Homo sapiens: one gene and its partner. The protein of the gene in region 2 interacts with the protein of the main gene of each other region in a pairwise test. Each region holds a gene or a part of one and is shown on either strand. Other genes may lie near its edges. The genes, in order: XRCC4 and HAUS2.

The links.
Region 1: the proteins of HAUS2 (region 2) and XRCC4 interact in binary tests that used the Homo sapiens proteins (3 or more experiments, as listed by UniProt).

The regions. Positions count from the first base shown.
Region 1 is NC_000005.10:83,104,277-83,120,326, forward strand, and holds part of XRCC4 (DNA repair protein XRCC4), read left to right. Parts: intron 1-633; 5' UTR 634-643; coding exon 644-782; intron 783-6,751; coding exon 6,752-6,927; intron 6,928-16,050.
Region 2 is NC_000015.10:42,554,822-42,570,871, forward strand, and holds the end of HAUS2 (HAUS augmin-like complex subunit 2), read left to right. Parts: intron 1-3,376; coding exon 3,377-3,469; intron 3,470-4,517; coding exon 4,518-4,587; intron 4,588-5,960; coding exon of another isoform or gene 5,961-6,049; intron 6,050-6,448; coding exon 6,449-6,581; exon of another isoform or gene 6,582-6,869; intron 6,870-8,927; coding exon 8,928-9,036; intron 9,037-11,785; coding exon 11,786-11,995; 3' UTR 11,996-15,173; downstream 15,174-16,050.

The DNA of each region.
Region 1 (16,050 bases), on a different chromosome or scaffold from region 2:
CATTCCAGACAGTGTCTCCAGACAGAGACTAAGATACTTGGTCAATTTTATCCTTTCTAATTACTGTAATATTTCAGTAGTGAGATCAGTTCCAGGTCATTCTCACAAGTTCTTGCAACCATTTCTTTTGTGGTAGAAAAAAAGCCTATTGAATCTGGGGGAAAAGAAGTGGTAAAATTTACTCAGCATATTGTTGAGATGATAATTTTTTGTTTTTTTTTAGTAGAGACGGGGTTTCACCATGTTGGCCAGACTGGTCTTGAACTCCTGACCTCAGGCAATCTGCCCGTCTTGGCCTCCCAAAGTGCTGGGATTACCGGTGTGAGACACCGCGCCCAGCTGAGATGATAATTTTTATCTTCATTACTTGGACAAATCATTTTCCATTTATGGGCCTCTGCTTTTCTCATCTGTAAAAATTGTGAATTAATATTGAAGAAAACTGTGAATTTACTGAATGTATTATTTACTGAATTTAATGGTTGAATCTAATGGTTGAACCTATTATACAGTTTTTTTGTTTTGCTTATTTTCTTATTTCCTTGGTGTTTGTGTAGCTGAGAGGCCAGTACAGAAAACATTATTTGAGTTACAGTTTCTTTTAAAAATATTAATTGTATTCTCCCATTACAGGTATTAAGAAATGGAGAGAAAAATAAGCAGAATCCACCTTGTTTCTGAACCCAGTATAACTCATTTTCTACAAGTATCTTGGGAGAAAACACTGGAATCTGGTTTTGTTATTACACTTACTGATGGTCATTCAGCATGGACTGGGACAGGTAATACTAAAAACAAAGTTTTTATAAGTAAAATTTAAGTGTGCTATTCTTCAGTCCTCAGGGATACTTTTCCATTAGATATTGGGTAAAACTGATATTAATTTTACTTGCTATTGCTGTCAAATTTATACACAGGTTTGTAATATTTAATGCCACTTTCTATATTTAATAGTAATAGAAAAACAAACGTGTCCTAGAAAATTCCGGTTACCATTTGAATCTTAGTAACTTGGATTTGTTCAGAGGTTTAAAATGACCTCTTTATAGAAAATATAAATAGTACTTTCTAAATACATCTTTTCTCAGGACCCCAGGGAAGAAGTCTGGGGCAGAGGAAGGAGATTGGTTAGGTAAATGGGTATGTGTGTTGCCTTGGGGCAATGGGGTAGTGGTGGGTTATTTATTTATTTATTTTCCCCAGTGAACATATATTACATTTGTAACAAAACAGGACCAGAGTCTAAAAATTTGTAATGCAAGGTTCACACCCACATTTAGGATCTTGGCTGTGATTTTAGGAAATAGATTTTTTTAACTCTTTGGTAATAATATTTTAAAAATGCTAATGACCCTCAAATCATGTATGGAACATGGTGGATATAAAGTAAAAATATGTAGCCTTATATTTTCCTTATATACGAAGTTTTAATACTCTTCTAAAGTATCTTATTGAAAGATTTAAAGAACTATTTTTATAATTATGCAAAAGTCTTTTCTAGAGTTATGTTGTGAATAATGTTTTCTGTAAGATAATTTTTACATGTTAATTTACATACTATTTATATCTTCTATTAACTTTAGAAATATTTCTCTAGAATTTGTTACCATGATTATTATATCGTCTTTAAAATTACAATACATTGTAAAATTTTGTTTCTTTCTTGAGCGTTATGAATTATGTTATACAACACAGTCAAATTGAATTTATACTTACAGAGTTTCAAAAAAATTGTCTTTTTTGACACAGAACAGGTAATGTTGATGTAGGGATTCCTGTAAAATAAAGAATTTTCAGGGGTAATATTTGCAGTACTTATTATGATATCTATTTAAGCTACACATTTATCTGTAAGAGAAAGCAGAAATCAGATTGGTTGTTGCAGTTCAAGAGTAGAAGATTTGTCAGCTTGGTTTTATGTATGCCAGAGAGATTATATCCAGAAGACAATATTTCTTGTTTTAGGGTGAAGAGTGTATAAGGCTAAAGACAAGGGCAATAGATTAATGCTGGTCATCTGGGTAAGAAGAGCAGTTCTAACAACACAGCTTGGAAGCAAGTCCTAGGGGAAGTGGTTGCTTGTATGTAAGGAATACTGTATTTATAACTTTAGGTATTTCTAATTGGCAAATGGCGTATTCTGTATACTTAGTTGTTGTCAGACAGATGACCTTAAGGTGTTTCAGGAGCCTTAATTATCAAAGGAAGAGGCTGAATTCTAATCTAGTCCATAAGCCTCATTCACCAAGATAAAAATCAGTGATAATATGTTATTTGAAATTTTTTAATCATTAAGTATTGGGGGAAAAAAGAACACTCCATTAACTCTTATCTCTTAATTTAACCAGAAATGTAAGAACCTTACATTTATGGAACATTTCGTTTATATCATACAATTGTGCTGGCATCATTCTTAATAATATTAACATGAATTATCATTTCACTAGATGGTACTGATTTATACTGAGGGTAAGAGACACATTTGGTTTGTCAACACTCTTTGCAATTATCTAGACCGGTACCTACGAAATACATTCTCAATGAATACTTTTTTGATTGAAAGAATGAAAGGATGTCTCAAATATATAAAACTGGTCTGCGAAAAAAGAAAATAAATTGTTCATTTTAGAGTTAGCATGTTTTTGAATGAAAACTCCAGTTTTATATTTACTTATTGTTGACATTTGTCATAACTGCAGTATATTCTACCATTTATTTTTTAGCTAGTGGAATTTAATGTGACAAAAATGTGATATCAAACTTATGTATTCTCAGGTGGATTGTTACCATTTTGGTTTCCTGTACCAAACAAGCTTTAAAACAGAAAATTTTATAGTGCACTATGTGGTCATTTTATTTTCAAAAATATCTAATAGTGTTTAAATCTCTCATGTGTTTTATGCCTTCATTCATTTCTGTTTTCTTGTTTACATATCAGGGACAAAATAGGAAATCAAATAATATAACACTGTGCCCATGTTTAGTTAAGGCTTATTCCATAAATGTGATCTGGTACTTTACATGTAGACAATAACATCACTAAGGACATTGAAACAATTAAATAATTGAAACATGGAAACGGATTTCCTTCCGATACCTCATCCTGTTTTTTTTTGTTCAACATTTTGATTACTGCAACCTTCAATTTGGACAATTTTTTTTCTCTTTTTATTTGAGTGAAATTAAAAGGATGTAAGTTTTCTTTTAATCTCCCCTACACTAAACTCACTGATTTCCATTAGCAATGTTTTATCTAATGAATGTTTTTGAGGTCCAATTATCTAATTATCATGTGGTCTATCATCACATCAGTATTACAGGCGGTTATATCACAGGGGTAAGTCACAAAGTGGGTTAATGATCGATGACTCTGACTTTCATAAGAATTCCTATTGGCAGTAGGAAACTTATATCACCCATCTCTGGAGTAGTTTGAAGTTTATTAAAGAGTAAATTAAACTTTACTAATTGTTCTATTATCCACTAATTAGATCCACTTATAATTATCTTGAGTGTAAATATTTTTTGACTTATATGGAAATAGTGACAGAACTCAGTGGAAAGAGGATTTTAATAAATCAAGCAGTGAAATGGGTTTATGATGCAATACCAACTAGAATCCTAATGGTATGATAAGACTGTATGTCTTCTGAGCTCCAGTACAAGCTTAGGATGTGTGCAGGCTTTTGGCTAGTTATATATAGGTATCTGAAGGAAAAAAATCTTCTTTCCTCACTTACATCTTCATCTACCTATAAACACTGCAAAAGTGATGCTTTTCAGTGTTAAAGTGAGTCTCAGTCTGACTTCTACCAGTTCCTTGTTTTTTGGTCATGTTGGGCTGCTCATGTTTTATGCCTTATTATGTGGTTCAGTTGCATTCTTGCTGAATTTTATTATTTCCATTGCCTTTATTCTTGGTCACTGAAGTTTTAGAGCATCGCGTGCTTACAGCTATACTTTTTCCAGATGTTCTTGGCACAGAATTCAAAACTGGTGACCAGGTTGGTTTTTTAGGATTGAAGCCCTATGTAGGCAGTCAGATTTCCATGTTTACTTTTATAGGAATTTTTCAAGTACATTTTTGAACAAATAGCTGTTTTACATAATTAATTTCCTTTCATACGTTTTTTTCTCCTTCAAAAATTAAATATTCCGTAATAATCAGCACAGTATTTATTAGGAGAGGAAAATAAGAGGATATCTAGGATGATAACTGACAGATATCTAAAATGTTGTCTAAGATATTAGCACTTGAATTTGAGCTCCACAGGCTAGCATTTTTGGAATGAATGAATGATTACATATTTTCAGACAGGTATCTTTTCATTTTAATGAAATTTAGAATACTTTTAACTAGATGCTTTTTAAATAGATGTTCTCTGTTTTCTTTTGTGTTTTCTTCAAGTTTTTCTATGGCCGCATTAAAGATGGCATCTACAAATTTATTTCCTATTTCTCTGTGAAATAACTGTTCTTCCTAGGTATTGGTGAGTTAAAGTTAGATAGTTACTTTTTAACATAATGCAAACACAAAATATGAAATTATTCCTTAAATAGGAAGCATTTATCTTCTTCTTTTTTTTTTTTTAGAAGAGCTACTAGGGCATTTGAAAGATCAATAGGTTTGATAGTGATGATCATATTAAATGTGTCCACTTCCAATAGAGAAAATGTGAAAGTGTTTTAGAAGCTGTTAATATATGAATATAAGCTATTTTTATTCTTACCTCCTTCCAAAGGTTGTGTGACGTATGAGAATCATATTTTATTATCAAAACTTGTTATCAAAAATTGATCATATAAAAATATTGGTACCTTGCAAGACTCCCTTTTTCATTAACTGTCATGGGTCTTCCAGACACTTGATAGCATAGAGACCAAAGGTATGAAAATGTGTGTTCCATTTTAGGGATTCTTTAATCATGATTTCCTTATATTCTGTAATATTTTATACTAATGTTGTTTTTCAAAATTATGGATGGAAATAATTTATCCAATGTTTCATGTCTCTGCTTCACCTCAAAATAAAACATGCAGAGAGATATGAGTATTAATCCCAGCTTCACTAGTTACTTACTTCATCACCCTAGACCATTACTTGATCTCTGTGAGCCTCAGTTTTCTCTTTTGCAAAATGAAAATAATATCTGTTTTTCAGTTTTATAAGGAATTAAAATAGATAAGTGTAATGCATAAGTATGAAATTATACAACCATATGAGACTTTTATCATTACTGTGATAGCCTAAATTAACACAGGAAACCATCCAACCACACACACATTCCAACAAATAACGAGATTGAATCTTGTAATTTTAAAAACAAACAAGTATGCAGACCCATTGCCACTTTTGAGTGTAAGAAAGGGAAAACCTCAGACACCATGTTTGAAGAGGTATTTCAAAACCAAAGTAATTGATGAGAATTAAAGCTTACTTGTAGATTCATGGAATATCTGAACTAGATATACTTCTAGATGACAGTGAGTATAATGTTTGAGTGAGGTAGAATGTTGAGGCTTCAGACCTCTTAGGGAATTGGAGTTGAGCTCTCAGCATAAAGAAAGGAACCTGGAAAATATATGCTGTTAATAAAATAATCTTTTAAAAAAACTACTACTCTCTGTCCAGAGGATGCAGCATAAAAACAGAACAATCCCTAAGGACTATGAGTGAATAAAAGTCTCAAGAAAAATCAGAACCCTAAACCTGTGTTATGTGTGGATGGGAGGTTTAAAATGGAACACTTTGCCTCAAATGTAAAAATCGAGGTGAGAAATTAACTTTCAAAACTAGTCCCAAACTGATAAAACTTGTAATGACCCCCAGAAAGGCAACCTTCATTTAAGACCACTTCTTCCCAGAGCACTTGCCACTTTGGCTAGAGGTGAGCTGTACTCAAATGTTACAAAGCATGAAAGGAAAACAAGTAAAACAAGAATTTTTCCACAGATAGAAGAAACATAATTTATACCCCAGGAGCCACACATAAATACAGAAATGAAAGAGATCTTAAAATACGTTTATTTAAATATTTAAAAGAAGGGTAGGATAAGAACAGGATATAATGACAAAGGAACAAAGATAATATCTAGAATTGAAAATATAATTATTGAAACAAAAATCTCAATGATAGTAAAACATCAGCTTTAAAAATACCTAGATAAGAGAATTGGAAGCGGTCTCTAGTATAGTATGTGTTGCAGAGGAGATGCTCGTACATTTTAGTTTCCTTCCTATTATTTCCTTATCATCTCCTTTCATCCATATTTTCTGTTGTTGGCACATGATATGAGAATAGTGAGCTCCACTTTTGCTTTTGTTTTACTCTGCCCATATGAGTGAGAAACACAGTATAGGCTATTGAATCTTTGATGCAAGGAAGAAAGATGTTATAAAATACTGAACTTATTATTCATTGTAGGAAATTATCTGGCTTTGACCTAAGAGCAGTTACACAAAGTGGGAGTTTCTGTAATAATTTACAATGCGTTTCATCTGAAGACAGAGAAAGAATGTCAAGGGTTTAATGTATTTTACGAGATGTGAGTCTAAATTAATGCATTTCTCAAAAATTGCTAGTTCAGTAAAAAGGAATAATTTGATTTAAAAATGTGTAGTATAGGGATTGATTTTACTTGTTTGAATTTCTGTTACATGTGATAAATTAGTACTAACAGATAAACTAATATTTTCTCATGTGTAGTCATTTACTTTTCATTTTAAAACTTTTGTTAATATTTCCCATAGTTTCTGAATCAGAGATTTCCCAAGAAGCTGATGACATGGCAATGGAAAAAGGGAAATATGTTGGTGAACTGAGAAAAGCATTGTTGTCAGGAGCAGGACCAGCTGATGTATACACGTTTAATTTTTCTAAAGAGTCTTGTTATTTCTTCTTTGAGAAAAACCTGAAAGATGTCTCAGTAAGTAAAACTTTCCAAAATGTTACATAGTAAAATGTCAGAGCATTTATTGAGGAATTATATTTAAATTTAAGTGACTACTATATTATTCCCAGAACACCTCAGAAGCAAAAGCTTGAAAAGTACTTGGTTTCCAAATTAGAAGAATACTTCAAAGCTAAAGTCATTAAATATATTAATGAATCATGAAAAATAAATATTGGAAAATGTGTTTAGTTTTTAATGCTTGAAAAATTTTAAAGTATTACAGAGTTAATTATACAAAAGAATAATCTTGAAAAAGGTGAGATCAGAAGTTTTAGGCCATCGTGACAGGTCTTATTGAAAAAAGTTTTGTGAAATATTGATTTTAAGAAATAAAATCAATCAAAATATATCTTTGAATATAGAATAATTATGACTTATTTTCTACTTTACTAGAGTATATTTGAAATTGAAAAATGCATAGTAAGTATTAAGGATACTTTATATTGTCAGATTTAAAAATATTAAAATAGAAATAACTTGAAGCCTAAGCTTTGCAAACAAGAGTATCTGCTACTTATTCTGCTCAGTTCCTGCACCAATTCAGATCAAGGCAGGTGGTTTATTTATTAAAGTCTGGCACTAATTATTTGTATATTTTACCTAAGTTTAATAGATACTGAATTTGTTTTTTTAACCAGTGGTTTTCAGTCATATATGAGATCTATCATTTCTGAAGGAGAGGGAAGGAAATGTTTGCTACATTAAGTTAACAGAAATGTATTGAGAATTTGTTTTAGTGCTCAACTGAGTTTAGGAAATTCTTTTAAATCAACCTTTTAAATTTGGAATAATTAAAGAGATTTCATTAATTAGATAAACATTTGTAGAAACAAATGGAGTCATTATAAATTTATATTATCGTGTAGGGAATAATGCAGAGAAACTACCCTTAGTAATTTATATTTAAAATAAACATACTTTTTCTAATTAGCTGCCAATTTATATAAGTTTCAATATGCTGAATTTCTTAAAATGGTAATTTAAAATAGGTTCAGTAAGAAGGTTGGAACTAGCTACTACAATTTTGTTATTTATTGTAAGTGTTCTTTCCTGTGGCCCAAGCTCAATCGGATGATATTATATGTTACAGAAGTGCAGACTCTTCTAATGTTTTGAAGCAGATCATTGCCAAATTGGGATTAATGCCATTTCCCATTCACTAAACATTTGCATGTAACAACTAGCATTATTTTGTGCAGCGATTTTCTAGTTTTTATCTGTTTCACACATATTGATACATAATAAATTCCAAATTAGTGAGGTACATTTTAGAAGGCTGAAAGGCTTTTGAAATTTTTGACATGCTAAAAGACGGGGCTTGGTACAGTTGGCATGTATATTAATCTGTTCTCACACTGCTAATAAAGACATACCCAAGGCTGGGTAATTTATAAAGGAAAAAGATTTAATTGACTCACAGTTCCATATGGCTGGGGAGGCCTCACAATCATGGTGGAAAGCAAAAGAGGAGCAAAGTCACATCTTACATGGTGGCAGGCAAAAGAACATGTGCAGGGGAACTCCCCTTTATAAAATCATTAGATCTCATGAGACTTATTCACTATCATGAGAACAACACAGGAAAGACCCCTCATTCAGGATTCAGTTACCTCCCGCTGGGTCCCTCTCATAACACTTGGGAATTATGAGAACTACAATTGAAGATGAGATTTGGGTGGAGACACAGCCAAACCATATCATTCCGCCCAGCCCCTCCCAAATCTCATGTCCTCACATTTCAAAACCAATCATTCCTTCCCAAGAGTCCCCCAGAGTCTTAACTCATTTCAGCATTAACTCACAAGTCCACAGTCCAAAGTCTCATCTGAGACAAGGCAAGTTCCTTCTACCTATGAGCTTGTAAAATCATAAACAAGTTAGTTACTTCCCAGATACAATGAGGGTACAGGCATTGGGTAAACATACCCATTTCAAATGGGAGAAATTGGCCAAAACAAAGAGGCTACAGGCGCCATGCAAGTTCGAAATCCAATAGGGCAGTCATGAAACCTTAAAGTTCCAAAATGATCTCCTTTGACTCCATATCTCACATCCAGGTGATGCTAATGCAAGAGGCGGACTCCCACAACCTTGAGCAGCTCCACCCCTGTGGCTTTGCAGGGTACAGCTCCCTTCCTGGCTGCTTTCATGGGCTGGCATTGAGTGTCTGTGGCTTTCCCAGGGGCACAGTGCAAGCTGTCGGTGGATCTACCATTCTGGGGTCTGCAGGAAAGTGGCCCTAATCTTATAGCTTCACTAGGCAGTGCCCCAGTGGGGACTCTGTATAGGGGCTCCAACCCCACATTTCCCTTCTATACTGCCCTAGCAGAGGTTCTTCATGAGGGCCCTGCCCCTGCAGCAAACTTCTGCCTGGACATCCAAACATTTCTTTCTTTTTTTTTTTTTTTGAGACGGAGTCTCGCTGTGTCACCCAGGTTGGAGTGCAATGGCGTGATCTCCATCTCCACTCACTGCAAGCTCCGCCTCCTGGGTTCATGCCATTCTCCTGCCTCAGCCTCCCAGGTAGCTGGGACTATAGGCGTCCGCCACCATGCCCAGCTAATTTTTTGTATTTTTAGTAGAGACGGGGTTTCACCATGTTAGCCAAGATGGTCTCAATCTCCTGACCTCGTGATCCGCCCGCCTCAGCCCCCCAAAGTGCTGGGATTACAGGCGTGAGCCACCGCACCCAGCGCAGACATTTCTATACATCATCTGAAATCTAGGCAGAGGTTCCCAAACCTCAATTCTTGGCTTCTGTGCACTCGCAGGCTCAACACCATATGGAAGCTGCCAAGACTTGGGACTTGTACCCTCTGAAGCAAGGCCCGATCTGTACCTTTGCCTGTTTTAGCGACTGCTGGAGTGACTGGGATGCAGGGAACCAAGTCCCTAGGCTGCACGCTGCAATGGGGGCCTGGACCTGGCCCAGGAAACTGTTTTTACCGCCTAGGCCTCTGGAGCCTATAATGGGAGGGGCTCCTGTGAACATCTCTGACATGCCTCGGAGACATTTCCCCCATTGTCTTGGTGATTAACATTTGGCTCCTTATTACTTATGCAAATTTATGCAGCAGGCTTGAATTTTTCCCCCAAATATGGGCTTTTCTTTTTTATTGCATCGTCAGGCTGCAAATTTTCCAAACTTTTATGGTCTGCTTCCTGTTGAATGCTTTGCTGCTTAGAAATTTCTTCTGCTAGATACCCTAAGTCATTTCTCTCAAGTTGAAAGTTCCACAGATCTCTGGGGAAGGGGCAAAATGCCCCCAGTCTCTTTGCATAGCAAGAGTGACCTTTAGTTCCCAACAAGTTCCTCATGTCCATCTGAGACCACCTAAGCCTGGACTTCGTTGTCTGTATTAGCATTTTGTTCCAAGCCATTCAACAATTCTCTAGGAAATTCCAAACTTTTTCACATCTTCCTGTCTTCTGAGCCCTCAAGTCTCTAGGAAGTTCCAAACTTTCCCACATTTTCCTGTCTTCTTTTGAGCCCTCCAAACTGTTCCAGTCTCTGCCTGTTACCCAGTTCCGAAGTTTCTTTCACATTTTCGGGTACCTTTATAGCAGCACTCCAGTCTACCGGTACCAATTTACTGTATTAGTCTGTTCTTACACTGCTAATAAAGACATACCCGAGGCTGGGTAGTTTATAAAGGAAAGAGGTTTAAATGATTCACAGTTCCACATGGCTGGGGAGGCCTCATAATCATGGCAGAAAGAGAAGGAGGAACAAAGTTACGTCTTACATGGTGGCAGGCAAGAGAGCATGTGCAGGGGAGCTCCCCTTTATAAAACCTTTAGATCTCATGAGACTTATTCACTTTCATGAGAACAGCACAGGAAAGACCCACCCCCATGATTCGATTACCTCCCACCATGTTTGTCTTACAACATGTGGGAATTATGGGATCTACAATTCAAGATGAGATTTAGGCCGGGTGCCTCCCAGCACTTTGGGAGGCTGAGATGGGCGGATCACCTGAGGTTGGGAGTTCCAGACCAGGCTGACCAACATGGAGAAACCCCGTCTCTACTAAGAATACAAAATTAGCTGTGCATGGTGGCGCATACCTGTAATTCCAGCTACTTGGGAGGCTGAGGCAGGAGAATGGCTTGAACCCGGAAGGCAGAGGTTGCGGTAAGCCAAGATCACACCATTGCACTTCAGCCTGGGCAACAAGTGTGAAACTCTGTCTCAAAAAACAAACAAACAAACAAACAAAAAAACAAGATGAGATTTGGGTGGGGACACAGCCAAACCATATCAGCCTGGATGGAGTACTTGCCATGACTGGCAGTACATCAGGTTTTACCCTTTCTATGAAGAAAGAGCTTTAAGTCCTCTTGATTCATGTCTTCTACAGTTGGTTTGGCATATATCAACATCAAAGACTCATAATAATCCTGAAAGATTTTTGCTTACCACCCTGAAAGTAAACAACTTTATCAGAGCCAGCATCTTGAACTACAGGTACTACCTTTTCAACAAATGTTCACAAGTAATGGAAGCAGCCTGAAAGATTACCAGCAATGCAAAAAGTGTGCTGGTTCCCCAGAGAATGTCTTAAAGCACTACATTGCAGTCTAAATATCTGTCTCCTTATTTATTCATTTATTTATTTGTTTATGAGAAAGAAAAGAATATTCTCAGAACGGCTTGACAAGGAGGAGTTTATTCATGGCTTGGCTTGAGAGATATTTTGGATATTTAGATGAGGTAAAACTTTCAGTGGATGGATGCAGCTGAGAGATCACAAGTTCATTTGGCCAAGGTGTCATGGGAGTCTTCCAGTATTCAGGATGTGCTTCTGCAGACTGATTTCAGAGTGACAATGTCTTGTAGATTCATCTGCTGGCAAAAAAAATCTGCAGACAATGGGAAACATGGCAGACAGAATACTTTTTTAAAGCTAATTTTGCTTGGATGACCTAAAAATTGAGAAGGAGTTTGTAATCCTTTTCTTGATGATACAAACATCTGATTGTTGCCAAAAATGACCTCCTAAACTTAGAAGAAAGGAAAAGAATGAACATAAATTCAACTAAAAAAGTTGTGAATTCTGTTGTTTCTTAATGTAAGGTTGCTCCTCCGTGACAAAGACTTGCTCCCAGATGCATACCTCTGGGAGTCAGGGTTTTAGGCATTTATTGCCATCAGTTCAAGAAATTTTGTGTATCTAATTGTGTGTTCACTGTGCAATTTGAACATTTTGAATATCTAACTTATATAAGAATTGTTTGAAATTTACATTTATAACAAACTTTCTTTTTTTCTTAAAAGGAAGTAACCACTATTTTAGTATTCAAAAATACCTGATATTTTGAAAATCCTGTCTTATGTTTTGTCTGAGTGAAAGAATTACCAGTTTCTCTCTCTCTTTTTTTTTTTTTTTTTTTTTTTTTTTTTTTGAGATGGAGCCTCACTCTGTCACCCAGGCTGGAGTGCAATGGTGCAATCTCAGCTCACTGCAACCTCTGCCTCCCAGGTTCAAGTGATTCTCCTGCCTCAGTCTCCTGAGTAGCTGGGATTACAGGTGCATGTCACCATGCCCAGCTGATTTTTGTATTTTTAGTAGAGACGGGGTTGTGCCATATGGGCCAGGCTGGTCTCGAACTCCTGACCTCAAGTGATCTGCCTGCCTCGGCCTCCCAAAGTGCTGGGATTATAGGCATGAGTCACTGTGCCCAGCCAGAATTACCAATTTCTAATGTAGTGAAATATTTAAAATTTTTAGCTTGTTTGTCAATATTTATACTCATGTTTTGGGAGCAGTGGGTCAGCAATTTTCATGAGATTGCTTTTGAGCTTATCCTCCCAAAACTTCCCTTAGGCTTTAATTGGCTTTTCTTTATAGATAACATAGATCCTTTTATTTTAACTTCATTCTCATTTGAATAAATGTTGGGCGAACAGCTACACACTAATTTCTTTTCTCCATAGAGTGCGAACCCATGTGACCCTTCCTGCCTTAGTGCTCTTCATTTAACAGTAGATTGTTCTGGTTGAAAGCATACTATAGTGCCAGCATTTGGAACTCCTCATCTCTTCAGCACAAGGACTGTCACTCACACAAGAGATCATTTGTGTGCTTTGGGCCACTGTTTTCCCTCTACCTTTAACAATTTATCCTGATTTTGCCATACAGACTTTGTCATGCTAACAATGCATCTTAATGAATAATGTATTCATCTTCCTTTTTTGCTTTCATATCTCACTCTGTTTCTTTAGAAAAATATTCATTTATGAGTCAAAGAAAAACAATTATTTTTGATAAGAATAACCTTGGGCTAGTCATTTAACCCTAATTTCCTCATGATTCTGTTTTTTCATCTGTGCAATTTTTAAGTGATTTCTTAGATTAATTCCAGCTTAGCTAACATATTGTAGAGCTACATATATATGTGTGTGTGTGTGTGTGTGTGTGTGTGTGTGTGTGTGTGTGTATGTATGTATATGTATGTATATATAAACATTTTGGCTATAAGGATATGTCTTTTTAAAAAAATTAATTTAATTTTATTTTAAGTTCTGGGATACATGTGCAGGATGTGTAGGTTTGTTACATAGGTAGACGTGTGCCATGGTGGTTTGCTGCACTTATGAAGCCATCACTTAGGTAGTAAGCCCAGCATGCATTAACTATTTTTCCTGGTGCTCTCCCCTTGCCTGGACCCCCTGACCAGCCCCAGTATGCATTGTGCCCCTCCCTGTGTTCATGTATTTTTGTTGTTCCCCAGTGAAGGAAGCTATGAGGTTTGAAGAAAAATTAAACATGATTTAATACATATATATATGTGTATGTATATACATCTCCACACACACACACACACACACACACACACACACATATGTATATAGTGAATATCTAAAACTCTAGAATTTGCTACAAGTCTCTAGTAGAATTAATGCAAAGTCTACTTCTATTTCTTTACCCTCATTTCCCCTACTACTTAAATAGCATAGAGGTTTATTTTTCAGTGATATAAAAATCCAAATAGGCAAACCTGGGTTAATATAATGGCTTTATGATATTGGAGACACAGGCTTCTTTGATCATGTTCCCTTGGCTTTTTTTTTTTTCTTTAATTGAGACAGGGTCACACTTTTTTGCCTAGTCTGGAGTACAGTGATGTGATCATAGCTCACTGTAACCTCTGACACTTAGGCTCACAAGAACCTCCTACCTCAGTCTCCCAAAGCACTGGATTACAGGCATGAGTCAGTGTGCCCAACAGTCTACTTTGTAATTTTTAACAGGTAGTTTTTATTTCATAGTCCAAGATGACTTGTCTAGTTTTACTATTATGTTCACCTTTGAGGCAGCAGGACCCAGTTAAAGAGACAGGAAATAATATGTGCTTTTTCTTTAAGACAGTCACTCCCAAATTTGATACATTCCTTTTGCTCACGTCCCATTGGCCAGAATGTAGTCACATGGCTTCACCTAGCTGCAAGGGAATCTGTGAAATGTGATCTTCAGCTGTGTCTTGTGCACAGAAGTTTTCATTACTGTGTAAAAACTGGAAGATGGATATCAATGGTCAACTAGCAATCTATGCATTTAACATGCAGGGAAGATTGAAATATCATTCAGAAGGCTTTGCTGTTTTTGTTGCAAGGATGTTTGTTTAGCATTTCATTACAAATAAGGGTTTCAGTCATATTTCAATTTAAGAAATGTTACAACATAAAGTAAGTATACTTTAAAGGATAAAGTAAGTATCCTACTCTGTATCTTACTATATTTTAGAAGTTTTATTTATTTTTTAGTGGAAAATCCATTCTAAGTTTCAGACAGCCTTCCCACCATTATTTAATTGACGTTTCTCAAATATATGAAAATGAGGTAAAACCAGTTTGCCAAAATAAACATCCAGAGTTCTTTTTAAAAACAGCAGTCCAAAATCCTATATTATTGCCATGTGTCCCTGTGGTTTCAGGGACTCTGAATTCAAAGGGCTATTTCCAGATGAAATATCAGAATTGTAGCATTTATTGTGTATTCTGCCAAAGATTTTGTCAAAAATAGTAATGACTTTCAGGTCTGTGGGAATATGGGTTGCAGATGTGTTGTTTGAATGCCTGAAAAGGAAATCATAGTATTCTTTATTTTGGTGATAAAAGTATTTGTGTACATGTGCCATTTTGATACTGAACACTATATAATTTTTGTGATCTTTTTGGAATGTGAGGACTAAGTAATGTAAGTGGTGAAGAAATCCCATTAAAAGTATACGTTTTCTAGCTAAGCCATATATTAAATTTTATAATTTGAAAAACAAAAATATCAGTGTTTAGTTATACTGTTTTTTGTTTGTGGACCCATTTTCTTTCTTGCTTCATATTTTTCTGCCTTTATTTAAAATGTTTGCTTCAATAATAAATATTTTAAAGTCATTATATCTTAACTTTTTTGTTCAGAAAAGGAACAACTTAGCATAAGAACAGAGCAGAAGTAGGCATGGCATAGTGGCTCATGCCTGTAATCCCAGCACTTTGGAAGGCCAATGTGGGAGGATCACTTGAGGCCAGGAGTTCAAGACCAGCCTGGACAATATAGTGGGACCCTTCTCTCTACCAAAAAGAAAAAAGTAAATTAGCTGGGCATGGTGGGACATGCCTGTAGTCCCAGCTACTTAGGAGGCTGAGGTGGGAGAATAACTTTAGCTGGGGAGTTTGAGGCTGCAGTGAGATAAGCTAAGGTTGTGCCAGTGCACTGCAGCCTGTCCAGCCTGGGTGACAGAGACAGAGTGAGACCTTGTCTCACAAAAAAAAAAAAAAAAACAATAACAGAAACAAAAACAAACAAACAAAATAAAAAACCAGAAGTAGAAAATAGCATTGTAAAAACTATGTTGTAAAAGGACATTTCAATTTAACAATATTAATATTTGCTTATTTTCAGTTAATCTACTTCAGCATGCAATCTCATACTTCATCAAGCGCACTTGGTATTGTCACTGTTTATACATGAAGCAATACATGCTGAAAGTATAAGTGAGTTGCTAAGGAAAACAGGTAGTAAGCTAAGCTAGGATAGAATTCAGGCCGCTGTTTTATGAATACCAAATCAGTTTTTTTTTAAATTTGTTTAG
Region 2 (16,050 bases):
TCCCCACCTTCCCCGCCGCCGCTGAGACAGGGTCTCACTCTGTTGCCCAGGCTGGAGTTGCAGTAGCATGATCACAGCTCACTACAGCCTCAATCTCCCAGGCTCAAGGGATCTTCCCACCCCAGCCTCCCAAGTAGCTGGGACTATAGGCACATGTCACCATGCCTGGCTAATTTTTTTTTTTTTTGAGACAGAGTCTCTCTCTGTCATCAGGCTGGAGTGCAATGGCGTGATCTCTGCTCACTGCAACCTTCGCCTCCTGGGTTCAAGCGATTCTCCTGTCACAGCCTCCCGAGTAGCTGGGACTACAGGCACGCCACCACACCCAGCTAATTTTTGTATTATTAGTAGAGATGGGGTTTCACCATGTTGGCCAGGATGGTCTCGATCTCCTGACCTCGTGATCTGCCCACCTCGGCCTCCCAAAGTGCTGGGATTACAGCCGTGAGCCACGGCGCCCGGCTGCCTGGCTAATTTTTTTAATTTTTTGTAGAGACAGGGTCTCCCTGTGTTGTGCAGGCTGGTCTCAAACTCCTGGGCTCAAGCAGTTCTCCTGCTTTAGCCTTCCAGAGTGCTGGGATTACAGGTGTGAGCCATCATGCCAGCCTGTATTTCTAAATAAGTATTATGTATGATTATATTACTTCTTCACCAGAAAATGTTCAGTTGCTCCCATTTTCTGCAGTATGATTGTTGAGCATAGCACTCAGGATCATCTATGATTATGTTGGAGACTATGTTTTCAGCTACATCTTACCCCTCTTTTCACATATATGCTAACACTGGTGGTTATTGAGCATTTGTAATGTTTTTGATCTTTCTATCTAGAATACCTTTTTCTTCCCATCCATTATGAGCCTCATGAGGGTAGAGAGCTTGTTTCACTCATATTTGAATATTTCGTTGACTAACTCAGTAAGTGTTCATAAAATTGATTATTTTTGGACAGTAAACTTTTACTATGAAGAGCCAGAGAGTAAATATGTAAGGCTTTGTGGGCCATATGGTTGCAGCTACACAACTAGGTGGTTGTATAAAAGCAGCCAGAGATAGTGTGTAAATGGATGAGAGAAGTCATGTTCCAATAAAACTTTATTTCTGGACCATGAAATTTGAATTTCAGATCATTTTCTTTTCTTTTTTAAGACGGAGTTTCGCTCTGTCACCCAGGCTGGAGTGCAGTGGCGCGATCTCGGCTCACTGCAACCTCTGCCTCCCAGGTTCAAGCAATTCTCCTGCCTCAGCCTCCCAAACTAGCTGACTAGCTGGGATTACAGGCGCCTGCCACCACGCCTGGCTAATTTTTTTTTTTTTTTTTTGAATAGAGACAGAGTTTCACCATGTTGGCCAGGCTGGTCTCAAACTCCTGACCTCAGGTAATCCACTTGCCATGGCCTCCCAAAATGTTGGGATTACAGGTGTGAGCCACTGCGCCCAGGCTTTTTTTTTTTTTTTTTTTTTTTGAGACAGGGTCTCACTCTGTCGCCCAGACTAGAGTGCAGTGGCAATCTCAGCTCACCACAACCTTGTCTCCTAAGCTCAAGCAATTCTCCTGCCTCAGCCTCCCGAGTAGCTGGGATTACAGGTGTGCACCACTCCTGCCTGGCTAATTTTTGTATTTTTAGTAGAGACGGGGTTTCACCATGTTGTCCAGGCTGGTCTTGAACTCCTGACCTCAAATGATCTACCCACCTCGGCCTCCAAAGTTCGGGATTACGGGCATGAGCCACTGTGCCCAGCCTGTTATAAAATATTGTCTTTGATTTTCTTTTTCCCAACAATTTGAAAATATAAAAACCATGCCTGGTTCACAGGCTGTACAAAAACAGGTAATGGGCTGCATTTATTTCATGGACTATAGTTTTCCAGTCCCTGGCCTATCTGATCTCTAAAGTTCTTTGGCCTGGACGCGGTGGCTCACGCCTGTAATCTGGGCACTCTGGGAGGCTGAGGCGGGTGGATCACCTGAGGTCAGCAGTTCTAGACCAGCCAGGCCAACATGGTGAAACCCCAACTGTACTAAAAATACAAAAAAAAAAAAAAAAATTAGCTGGGCATGGTGGCAGTAATCCCAAAAACTCCCAGCTACTTGGGAAGCTGTAATCCCAGCTATTTGGGAAGCTAAGGCAGGAGAATCAGTTGAATGCAAGAGGCAGAGGTTGCAGTGAGCAGAGATGTTGCCATTGTGCTCCAGCCTGGGTGACAAGAGCGAAACTCAGTCGGTGGCTCACGCCTGTAATCGCAGCATTTTGGGAGGCCTAGGTGGGCAGATCATGAGGTCAGGAGATCGAGACCATCCTGGCTAACACAGTGAAACCCCGTCTCTACTAAAAAATACAAAAAAATTAGCCGGGCATGGTGGTGGGCGCCTGTAGTCCCAGCTACTCGGGAGGCTGAGGCAGGAGAATGGCATGAACCCAGGAGGCAGAGCTTGCAGTGAGCCGAGATTGCACCACTGCACTCCAACCTGTGCGACAGAGTGAGACTCCATTTAAAAATATATATATTATATATAATATATATTTTATATATAATATATATTTTATATATATTATATATTTTATATATAATATATATTTTATATATACATTATATAATGTATACATTGTATATAATGTATATTATATATAATATATACATTGTATATAATGTATATTATATATAATATATACATTGTATATAATGTATATATTATATATATATGAAGTTCTTTGCTGTGCTAGCATTCTAGAAAGCAAGATGATAGAGAAAATTATGGATGAAGTCTAGGAATGCACAAGATAATACTCAATTCTGAGATAATGTGCATGGACTCATGGAATGAAAGGATGAAAAAGAAGGGGTAACCTTTTTAAAAGAATAATTATGCCTGGATACAAATAATCCTTTAACTAAAAGATGAGAATGTGAACATACACAGTATGAATGACTTGTAGGCAACTGAGGTCATTTAACGAATCAGATAAATAATTCCATGAAGGCGAAAATATTTGATTTCAACCCCGGAAGCTCTGAGAGACTGGGCCTGAGTCATTTGGAAAGGTAGAGGTGATTCTCCAACAAATTTAGCCTTTGAATCCTTTGATAAACTATCAGTAATACAAATCTATTTTGTATGGTACCTTAGGAAATAATACAAAGGGAGTGTGTTGTTTGTTTCTCTTATTTTTTTTTTAAATATTTGAGCAAGTGATTTGTGATGGTGAAGGTTCTAAAACAGGAATTACACATTGCTACTATTTTACTTTGTACTTCATGTTCAAAGGCAGTGTTGAACATAATATTTTCTCATATTTTAGACTATGGGCATGCTATTCCAATGTACCTAGAAACTTTTTGTGACATTCTGCTACTTTCCTTATTCATTTACCAATAGGAGATGTTAAACATGTCTAAGAAAACAGTTTCTTGTTTTGTGAACTTCACCAGACTACAGCAGATCACAAATATTCAAGCTGAAATCTACCAGGTAAATCATTTTGTTTTCACTTTCTTTTTTTTTTTTTTTTTTTTTTTTGAGACGGAGTCTTGCTCTGTCACGCAGGCTGGAGGCTGGAGTGCAGTGGCACAATCTCGGCTCACTGCAAACTCCGCCTCCCAGGTTCACGCCGTTCTTCTGCCTCAGCCTCATGAGTAGGTGGGACTACAGGCGCCCGCCACCATGCCCGGCTAATTTTTTGTACTTTTAGTAGAGATGGGGTTTCACCATGTTAGCCAGGATGGTCTCGATCTCCTGACCCCATGATCTGCCCGCCTCGGCCTCCCAAAGTGCTGGGATTACAGGTGTGAGCCACTGCGCCCGGCCTGAACTTTTCACTTTCTACTCCTAGTATAGGAAAACAAAAACAAAAGTTGGCCAGATGTAGTGGCTCACACCTATAATCCTCGCACTTTGGGAGGCCAAGGTGGGAGGACTGCTTGAGCCCAGGAGTTTGAGACCAGTGTGGGCAACACAGGGAGATCCCGTCTCTACAAAAAATTTTAAAAGTAACCAGACATGGTGGCACACACCTGTAGTCCCAGCTACTTGGGAGGCTGAGCTGGGAGGATCACTTGAGCCTAGGAAATCGGGGCTGCAGTGAGCCATGTTTGGGCCATTGCACTCCAGCCTGGGTGACAGACGGAGACCCTGTCTCAAAAACAAAAAAACTTTATTGGTTCAAACAGCAATTCCTTTGAACTTAGAACAGTGTCTAGCACATAACTAGCTAGCTACATGTTTACTTACTAATAGTAGTTACAGTAATAGTAGTAAGAGTAGCAGCAGCAGGGCAAGAACAGCAAAATGAAAAACTTCAGTAAATCCCCTGGACTCTTTTTTTTTTTTTTTTGAGACAGAGTCTCACTCTGTCACCCATACTGGAGTGCAGTGGCACAATCTCGGCTCACTACATCCTGACCTCTGGTGATCCACCTGCCTCAGCCTCCCAAAGTGCTGGGATTACAGGAGTGAGCCACCGCACCTGGCCATGGACACTTTCTGATTGAGCTAAATGTTACTTTTGTTCCTCATGTAGAAAAACCTGGAAATTGAACTCCTGAAACTAGAAAAAGATACAGCAGATGTTGTTCATCCTTTCTTTTTGGGTAAGTGGTTTGGTTAAGTGGATAATCACTGGAATTTCAACTTTTTCTTGGATTACTGTAAATAAGCACCAGTCAGTCAAATTATGATACACCATCATTTTTCCAGGTGTTGTCCCAAAGCTAATGAAATCTTGTATTTCTATGCTGAAATAGAAGTTCTGTTGGCTTGAGTAGTACAAATAGCATAAAAAGTCACCAAATTGGCTCTTCAAAGTCAGGAGAACTTGAAAGACAAAGTCTGAGGAACTTTTCAGATTAAAAGAGACTAAAGGGACATGACAACTAAAGCACTGTATGATCATGGATCGATTTTTTATTTTAATGAGATGGGGTCTTCCTATGTTGCCTAGGGTAGTCCTGAATGGCTCAAGCAGTCCTCCCAAATCACCCTCCCAAGTAGCTGGGATCACAGGTACATACCACCATGGCTGGCAATGTTTTGAATATTTGATGAGAAAATGTTCTTGTGGCCAGGCGTGGAGAGTCACGCCTGTAAACCCAGCACTTTGGGAGGCCAAGGTGGGTGGATTGCTTGAGCCCGGGAGTTCAAGACCAGCCAACATGGTGAAACCCTATCTCTACAAAAAAAATACAAAAACTAGCCAGCATTGTAGCATGTACCTGTAGTGCCAGTTACATGAAAGGCTGAGGCAGAAGGATTGTTTGAGCCTGGGAGGTCGAGGCTGCAATGAGTTGTGATCGTAGCACTCCACTCCAGCCTGGGTGACAGAGTGAGACCCTGTCTCAAAAATTAAAATTCTTTTTGCTGTAAAGGACATTATTGGGATACTTAGTGATGTTTAAATATGGACTGTATTAAATATTGGTAGTATTGTATTAATGTTATTTTTTGAATTTGATAATGTGCTGTAGTTATATAGGAGAATGTTCCTCTTCTTGGGAAATACATGCTAACGTTTTACAGGTAAAAAATATCATGCTGTCTGCAGCTTACTCTAAAGTGGATCAGCAAAAATTAGAGAGAGAGAGAGAGAGAGAGAGAAGAGAGAGAAAGAAGATAAAAAGAAAATGTAGCCAAATGTTAATAATCGGTGAATAAGTAAAATGTATGTGTGAGTTCACCAAGCTTTTTTTGAAACTTTTCTGCAAATCTGAATTTTTCCAAAGAAGAATTTTAAAGAAAGGTCAATTGGCAGCCATTAACTGAATGGGGAAAATAATGAGATAATCAGAAATAGCTTGTAGGATGACTTTTTTTTTTTTTTTTAAGAGTGTGTCACTCTGTAACCCAGGCTGAAGTACAGGTCGCTGTAACTTCAACACGTGGTTTCAACTGATTCTCTCAAGTAGCTAGGACTACTGGCATGTGCCACCATGCCCAGCTAATTTTTGTTTTTTCAATTTTTTTGTAGAGATGAAGTCTTGCTATGTTGCCCAGGCTGGTCTCGAACTCATGGCCTCAATTCTCCCGTTTCAGTCTCCCAAAACACTGCGATTACAGGTATGAGCTAGAGCACCAGCTAAGGTGACTCTTTTTCGATGGTCTTTTATAGACTATTAGAGTCAGGGATAGGAAAAAAGACTTTGTGTTAAGAATATAGCTCTGGCTATAAGAACTGAATAAGAAGTAGAGATGAGAAACACAGAGAAAGAATTTAGCACTAGATTTGGTTATCACTAGGAAAAGAGATAATAGAAATATATTAGATATACAAAAACCGACTAAGAGAAAGTTGTTGAAAATGAAATTGGTATTGGTATTAAAGACAGCAAAAAGGAGACAGGAGGGTAATGATAGGATGAATTTTTGACATGGGTAGTGTCAAACCAAGGCAAAGAAGAAATTATTCTGTTATTTGTCCTATTGCTAACTATAATTACTGTTTTTTAATTTGTATAGCTCAGAAGTGTCATACTCTGCAAAGCATGAATAATCATTTGGAAGCAGTGCTGAAAGAGAAGAGATCCCTTAGGCAAAGACTGTTGAAACCCATGTGCCAGGAAAACTTACCTATTGAAGCTGTTTATCACAGGTTAGACTGAAAAGTAGAAATTAACAGTTACACCTGTTTTCTGAGTTTACTTTTTGTTTTGCAGTTACTTTGTAGCAGAATTCATAAAACAATTAGTGATTGTATTTGTTAACATTATTAATGGTGATATATTAAATCAGAAAGAAAATCTTTGCTTTTAAACCATTATACCTATGGCAAAAAGGAAGAACTTGGCCATCGTGTTTTGGGAATTATAAATTATGAGTTTAATGAAAGAAATTAGATCCATAACATGTAACAATAAAAACTGTTTGTATGTGAAGTAAATTCATTGTTGTAAAGTACATTCATTGTTGAGTTAATGTTGCCTATATGTAAAAATTCTATTGGCGGGGTTTAACTGGGGCAGATGAAAACACTATCAACTAAGGGAGGAAAAAACCTGGATTCTGTTCTCATCTCTACTGTTTATATGCCTCAAAGCCTTGAGCAAATGATTTACATTTTTGCCTTAGTTTCCCAATAAATAGAATAGAGATGAGTTCTATTGCCCTCTTCCTCACAGAGTATTACAAGTATCAAATTGAAGATGTAGATTATGACTAATGATAAATACTAGCCTGGACAACATGGCAAAACCCTGTTTCTACAAAAAAAAAAAATATAAAAATTAGCAACACATGATGGAACACACCTGTATTCCTGAGCTGGGAGGGTGACCTGAGCCCAGGAGGTCAAGTCTGCAGTGAGCTGTGATTGCACTAGCCTGGGTGACAGAGTGAGACCCTGTCTCAAATAAATACGAAGCAAGCATCTGGGGATCTCATTGCTAACTTTCTCCGCCAGTGCCTCACTAGCTTAAGCAAATCAGTATCTTAAGTGTCAGATTTTTTATTTTGTAGGAAAATAATAGATATACAAAAACTTATTCTTCCAAAAAAACAAAACAAGGCTGGGCACAGTGGCTCATGCCTGTAATCCCAACACTTTGGGAGGCCGAGGTGGCTGATCACTTGAGGCCAGGAGTTCAAGACCAGCCTGGCCAACATGGTGAAACCCCATCTCTACCAAAACATACGAAATATGCTGGGCATGGTGGCACATGCCTGTAATACCAGCTACTGGTGAGGCTGAGGCAGGAAAATCACTTGAACCCAGGAGGCAGAGGTTGCAATGACCTGAGATTGTGCCACTGCACTCCAGCCTGGGCAACAGGGTGAGACTCTGTCTCAAAACAGAAAACAAAACCCCTTTCTTGTGGCTATATTCAGTATCTGTTTAGTACATTATCATTACCCTTAATGTATATATTGTACTACATCTAAGAACTAGGCAATGATTTGAAAGCATTTTTGCAAGTGCAGAGATTCAAAGTAGCTTTCTATGTAGGCTATTTCAGTTAAGTACATTTATCCTTATTGTCTTCATTCTTCACAGAGAATGAGTAAGTTGAAATGGAATGAGGCCAGGCGTCATGGCTCACGCCTGTAATCCCGGTAATTTGGGAGGCCAAGATGGGTTGATCACTTGAGGCCAGCTGGGAGTTTGAGACCAGCTTGGCCAACATGACAAAACCCTGTGTCTACTAAAAATACAAAAATTAACTGAATATAGTGGTGCACGCCTGTGATCTCAGCTACTCAGGAGGCTGAGGCACAAGAATCACTTGAACCCAGGAGGCAGAGATTACAGTGAGCCGAGATTGTGCCACTGCACTCCAGCCTGGGCAACAGAGTCAGACTCTGTCTCAAAAAAAAAAAAAAAGAAATGGGGCTGGGCAAGGTGGCTCATGCCTGTAATCCCAGCACTTTGGGAGGCCAAGGCTGGTGGATCACAAGGTCAGGAGATCGAGACCATCCTGGCCAACATAATGAACCCCTTCTGCTAAAAATACAAAAATTAGCCAGGCGTGGTGGTGGGCGCCTGTAATCCCAGCTACTTGGGAGGCTGAGGCAAGAGAATTGCTTGAACCCAGGAGGCAGAGGTTTCAGTGAGCCGAGATTGCACCACTGTGCTCCAGCCTGGTGACATAGCAAGACTCCATCTCAAAAAAAAAAAAAAAAAAAGAAAAGAAAATGGAATGGGGTTTTTTTATCTAGGGAGAAAATGATTAACATTGAGGTTTCTCTAACATTAAGTTGGATTCCAGATAGGATTACTGTTGTCTCTTTCCATTTTTTTATTTGGATGACAAGTTGCTTAAAGTGAAAGAGAAGGACCTTTTTTTAATCACTAATATTTCTATGAATGCAGGAAGGTTGTTATTGGCTCTCTAGGTTGATTGTAATTCTTATCTCAAATTAAAAGTCCTGATTAAAGGAGAAGAAAAGGAACGTAAAACAATTAAACTTTAAAAAATGGTTGACTTTTTTCTTTCTCTTTCAGATATATGGTACATTTGCTGGAGTTGGCTGTGACTTTCATTGAGAGATTAGAAACCCACCTTGAAACAATTAGAAATATTCCTCATTTAGCTGCAAATCTAAAGAAAATGGTGAGTATTAATATAGCAATCTTCAGTTATTTTTTACTAGAAACTTAGAGGTGTGCTCTCCCAGTTTAGCTTTTTAATAGCTAATATTACGAGCTAGTTAATTTTTAAATCAAGAAGTATTTTCTTGGCCTGGCATGGTAGTTCACACCTGTAATCCCTGCACTTTGGGAGGCCACAACGGGTGGATCACTTGAGGTCAGGAGTTGGAGACCAGCCTGGCCAACATGGTGAAACTCCATCTCTACTGAAAATACAAAAATTAGCTGGGCATGGTGGTGCGTGCCTGTAATTCCAGCTACCCGGGAGGCTGAGGCAGGAGAACTGCTTGAACCTGGGAGGCAGAAGTTGCAGTGAGCTGAGATCGTGCCAGTGCACTCCATCCTGGGCGACAGCAAGACTCCATCTCCCATTAAAAAAAAAAAAAAAAAAGAAGAAGAAGTGTTTATTTATTTAGACCTTGGATTTAACATTTTCTTTTTTATATAATTTTTATTTAGAAGCCATTTTAAATTATTTTATTCCAACATTTAATAAACATGTGTTGGCTTCATTGTGCCGTGGCTATGCTACATGTATTGTGAAAGATAGATATGACCAATCCCTGCCTTCAAATTCTCAACGTTTGGTGAGACAGCTGTAAAATATACATTTTCTACTTATAGGATTATATTTGCATAATAAATGCAGCAAAGAATTACAAAGAGATGCCATCTATTGAGCATAGAAAAGGGAGGAATTACTTCCAGTTTAGGAGGATTCTGAGTAGGATAGGGATAGGAAGACTTCAATAAAGTTTTTGTTTTGTTTTTTAAATAGAGACGAGTTCTCACTATGTTACCTAGGCTGGTTTCGAACTCCTAAGCTCAAGTGAGGCACCCGCCTCGGCCTCTTAAAGTGCTGAGATCACAGGCATGAGCCACCATGTCCAGCTTTGCAATAAAGATTTATTTAGGTGTTAGCAGTAAGCTGAATCTTTATTTATTTATTTATTTTCTGATATGGAGTTTCACTCTTGTTGCCCAGGCTGGAGTGCAATGGCACAATCTCGGCTCAGTGCAACCTCCGCCTCTTGGGTTCAAGCGATTCTCCTGCCTCAGCCTCCCAAGTAGCTGGGATTACAGGTGCCCACCACCACACCTGGCTAATAGTTTGTATTTTTAGTAGAGACGGGGTTTTGCCATGTTGGCCAGGCTGGTCTCCAACTCCTGACCTCAGGTGATCCACCTGCCTCAGCCTCCCAAAGTGTTGGGATTAAAGGCCTGAGCCACCGCACTTGCCAAAGTAAGCTGAATCTTAAGGAATAAGTGAAATTCGGACATGCATCAGAAAGAATAGTTTGGCCAAAAGGAGCAATGTGAGGAAAGACATAAAAGTCAAAGAACCCAGAGAGTATGGGGGAAAAGTGATACTCCACTTTGGCTGATGCGTAAAGGTATTGAGGAGATTAGCTCAGGGTTAGTTTATGCAGTGCCTTAAAAACCAGACTAATAACCTTAGACTTTACTGTCTGAGTATTGGGGAGCCATTGAATGTGTGTGTGTGTGTGTGTGTGTGTGTGTGTGTGTGTGTGTGTGTTTTCTTTTTTTAGTGAAGGGTGCAGAGGAGTGACTTGATTAGAACTGCCTTAATCATGGAGAAAATATTGGATAGAGCAGACTGAGCCTTGCTACTCTTGAGTATGGGCAGAGAGTATCAACATCACTTGGAAGCTTGTTATAAATACAAAACTACAGACATCATGCACCCTAGAACTTCAGAATCAGAATCTACGTTTTAACAAGTTCCTCAGGTGATTCCTGTGCACATTAAAGTTTGATCAGCTCTGGATTAGAAGACTAGGCAGAGAAACCAAAGGCAGAAAAACCTGGAGACTAATTACCGTCATTCAGATAAAAGATTTAAAGCATAGGAATACAGAAGATAATTTTTTTAGATTTTGGAGGTCACATTTTTAGAACTTGGCTATGAATTGGACAAGGGACACATCAAAAATAATGAAGTTTCTAGTCTGGGTGACTTGAAGGTGAGTAGTATCAAGTGTGGGTTAAAGAAGTTAGTAAGTGGGCTGGGCGCAATGGCTCACACCTGTAATCCCAGCACTTTGGGAGGCTGAGGTGGGTGGATCACGAGGTGAGGAGATCACGACCATCCTGGCTAACATGGTGAAACCCCGTCTCTACTAAAAATACAAAAAATTAGCTGGGCGTGGTGGCACGTGCCTGTAGTCCCACCTACCTGGGAGGATGAGGCAGAAGAATCGCTTGAACCCAGGAGACGGAGGTTGCAGTGAGCTGAGATTGCGCCACTGCACTCCAGTCTGGCAACAGAGTGAGACACCATCTCAAAAAAAAAAAAAAGAGGTTAGTAAGTTTATTTTTTGACACATCTTGCACATGTAGTAAATGGTCAATCATTTTTGAACTGTAGTTAGACTGAGTTTGAGATATTGAAGGTACATCCAGATAGAGATTACCAGTAGTCTTAAATGTGGGCCTGAATTTTAGGAAGGAAGTTAGGTTTAGCAATATAAATTGAGGGTCATCTGCATTGAGTGATTATTGAAGACAAAAGAGTTGAACTCACAAAGAGTAGGTTTGTACTGTAAGAAGTGGGAAAGCACAGTTTTAAGGAGCTTTTGAAGTAAGGGGCTGGAAAAAGATCATGTGTTAACCTTTGGTATCAGTTACTGATGATATAATGAATTAATAAGAGACATAATTTCTCCTGTTTCCCTTTTCAAATGTTACAGAACCAGGCTTTAGCAAAGATGGATATATTGGTGACTGAGACAGAAGAACTGGCAGAGAATATACTCAAGTGGCGTAAACAACAAAACGAAGTTTCGTCTTGTATCCCCAAAATATTAGCTGAAGAAAGTTATCTTTATAAACATGATATTATAATGCCTCCTTTACCTTTTACTTCTAAAGTTCATGTCCAAACTATTAATGCCAAGTAGTCATCAACTTTATTTTTGCTTAATTATGTGTAGTCATATGAAGTCTATTTCTAGTTGACTGTAACATGGGTATTAATAGTCTTTGCTGCTGGTAATACTGAAAGAACCTGCTTTATATTGGAGTATCAAGATCTCAGGTTCATTAAGACCAAACTGACTTTTCCTTTGTTTTTCATATATTTTTATTCTACCTTTCAGTAAAACTAGAGAAGCTAAAAAATAGCCATGACAATTTATTAATATAAGTGAATTAACCATTTCTCAGGTGGGAAATTCTCTTTTTTTAAAAATGTGTGTTTATCGTCTGGTGTGGTGGCTCACACCTGTAATCCTAACACTTGGGGAGGCTGAGGCGGGCAGATCACTTAAACCCAGGAGTTCAAGACCAGCCTGGGTAACATGGTGAAATCCCATATCTACAAAATAAACAAAAAATTAGCCGACCATGGTGGTGCATGCCTGTAGTCCCAGCTATTCGGGAGGCTGAGGTAAGAGGATCACCTAAGCCTGTGAGGTCATGGTTGCAATGAGTCATGATCACGCCACTGCGCTACAGCCTGGGCGACACAGTAAGACCCTGTCTCAAAAAAAAGAAGTGTGTTTCTGGCCAGGCACGGTGGCTCACGCCTGTAATCCCAGCACTTTGGGAGGCCTAGGTGGGCAGATCATGAGGTCAGGAGTTCGAGACCAGCCTGGCCAACATGGCGAAACACCTGTCTCTACTAAAAATACAAAAATTAGGCCGGGCGCAGTGGCTCACACCTGTAATCCCAACACTTTGGGAGGCCGACCCAGATGGGTGGATCACCTGAGGTCAGGAGTTTGAGACCAGCCTTGACAACATGGTGAAACCCCATCTCTGGTAGAAATATAAAAAATTAACCGGGCATGGTGGTGGACGCCTGTAATCCCAGCTACTTGGGAGGCTGAGGCAGAATAATCGCTTGAACCCAGGAGGCAGAGGTTGCAGTAAGCCAAGATCGTGCCTCTGCACTCCAACCTGGGTGATGGAGCAAGACTCCATCTCCAAAAAAATAAAAAATACAAAAATTAGCCAGGCATGGTAGCATGTGCCTGTAATCCCAGCTACTCAGGAGGCTGAGGCAGGAGAATCACTTGAACCCAGGAGGCAGAGGTTGCAGTGAGCCCAGATCGTGCCACCGCACTCTAGCCTGGGCAACAGAGCAAGACTCTGTCTTAAAAAAAAAAAAAAAAGGTGTTTCTGAATTAGAAGGGTCTTCTTGAATCTGAAAATGTCTATGATGATTATTCCTGTGGGAATGTCACTAAGTATGCAGAAAAGAGTAACACAGCCAGCCTGACTTATCCTTTGAAAGGCCTGATTATAAGGTTTGTCCTCAGCTGTTGCATCTGGGAACTTAGATATCAGAAGGTATCTTAGTCTGTTCTGCTGTCATAACAGAATTACACAAACTAAGTATTTTATAATGAACAGAAGTTTATTTGGTTGACAGGTGTGGAGGCTAGGCAGTCCAAGAACATGGTGCCAGCATCTAGTGAGGGTCTTGCCATGGCAGAAGGCACCACATGGCAAGTGAGCATGAGAAAGATATATGGGTCTAAACTTAGCCTTTTATCATGAGCCCACTCCCAAGATAGCAGCACTAATTCATTAATGAGGGCAAAGCCCTCCTTACCTAATTACTTTTTAAAGGTCTCATAACACTTTTACAATGTCAATTAAATTTCCAACACTTGAACTTTGGGGGACATATTTAAACCTTAACAGGAGGGCTCCACTCACTGAAAAGAGTCGTTCATGGTAGCTAACCTGTGGTTTGTGCTGAAAACCTGCTTTCTTCCTGGGAGTCTAGAATTTTGGTACATGGTAGGTAGAAGGTACCTACGTGACCAGCCCCCAGTAAAAACCCTGGGCACTGTATCTCTAACAAGTTTCCCTGGTAAACAACATTTCTCACATGTTGTCACAATTCAGTTGCTGGTGGAATGAAACAACAGATATGTGTGACTCCACTGTTAGAGGACTCTGGAAGCTTATACCTGGTTTCCCCCAGACTTTGCCTCTGTACCTTTTCTCTTTGCTGTTTTGCTTCATATGCTTTTGCTGTAATAAATCATAGCTGTGTGATGATATGCTGAGTCTTGTGAATTCTCCTAGCAAATCATGGAACCTGGAGGTAGTCTTGGAGACCCTGGCATACAAAGCAGTTCCTAAGTGTTTACTGGTAGCTGTAGGAATAGGCAAAGAAGAAACAGCAAAGAAAAAGGCACACTGTGGTATAACTTTGGAGGTTTACCTTGCAAAATGCTCAGATATTTTACCTATCAGAGGTTATTGTGCATATAATAGAGAGTGATATACTAACAACTGCCTCAGGATATACTCTTTTTAATCAGTATTGTAACTAACCTTGGCTTATTTTACTTTTAGACTTGGGGTTCTATTTTGCTTTAAAACATGTACATCAGTTTTGTTTTTTGTTTTGTTCTTTTCTTTCCTTTTTTTTTTTTTTTTTTTAAAGACAGGATCTCACTCTGTCACCCAGGTTGCTGAGAGTGTGGTGTGGCCCAATCTTGACCTCACTGCAGCCTTGACCTCTCAGGCTCAAGTGATCCTCCCACCTCAGCCTCCCAAGTAGCTGGGACTATAGGCACGCGCCACCACGCCTGGCTAATTTTTGTATTTTCTGTAGAGACAGAGTTTTGCCATGTTGTTGAGGCTGGTCTTGAACTCCTGGGTTCAAACGACCCTCCCGCCTCAGCCTCCGAAAGTGCTGGGAGTACAGGTGTTAGCCACTGCGCCTGGCCTCATTGTACTCCTTAACACAAGAAGACTTCAACAATGATAAGTAGTTGTTTATAAGGAAGCAGGATCATTACCAAAATAAATCCTGCTAAAACAACAGGAATCATGTTTTAAAGCCTAGTTTGCTAATTTTTGCTAGTAGGATAAGAGTGATCGTAATATCTCGAACATTACATAGACACTTAAAACCTTTAGTTGTATTTCATCAAAAATCTGTTCATACCCCACGTTGGTTTCAAAACATACTATGCTTTTTCTTCGTGTTATTTCCTATATTCATTTTTGTGTGTATGTGTATGTCACAAATATTGATATGCCTGGTTGTTTATTTTTGTTTTCTATTATGCCTTTTTCAAAATATAAAAATAAACTTGTAATTTCTAACTAAAATTTTTTAGTCCTAGTCTGAATTTAAAGTGATAGAAAGGACTGATGCACTGTTTAACTTATACAGTATAGGCATATAGGCTCTCAGAATCAAAAGAGCTTGAGGTAAGTTAAGCCTGAGGTCTACTTCAAAGAGAAAGCTAATTTAATACTCTTCCAGAGTCAATCAGTGCTGATTAATTTTTCTTTAATTATTCAACTTTTAGATGTGTGGATATTAAAAAAAAATTAGCTCTGCATGCCTTTTTTTGTTGTTGTTGTTGTTCTTGTTTTTTAGATGGTCTTGCTCTCACCCAGGCTGGAGTGCAGTGGCACAATCATAGCCCACTGCACTCTGAACCTCCTGGGCTCAATGGATCCTTCCACCTCAGCCTCCCAAGTAGCTGGGACTACAACTGTGCCCCACCACACCCAGCTAACTTTTAAATTTTTTTGTTGAGATGAGGTCTCGTCGTGTTGCCCAGGCTGGTCTTGAACTCCTGGGTTCAAGCAATCTTGGCCTCCCAAAGTGCTGGGATTACAGGTGTTAGCCCCTTGCACCTAGCCTGAATGTCTGTGTTTCCTACTTACACTAGAAGAGGTGTGTGAGATTTGCAAATTTATTGCCAGCATAACAGTGATGCCAGTTTGTGAAGACCATTCTGGAGGAATTGAGATGCTGCCTGGTTTTCCTAGCATTTTTCTTATTTTCTTTCTTTCTCTATGTGACTCTACCAGTCTGACCCCTGATTTATCCTCTGAAACCCTCAATGAAGTCAGGAACAGTCTGAGGAATAGCAGAACCTAAAAGATTTCTTGACATGCAAAATCTATAATAGAGTTGAGATTTTAATAAGACTGTAATTAGTGTATTGTGGGATTTCTTCACATATCTGTAAAA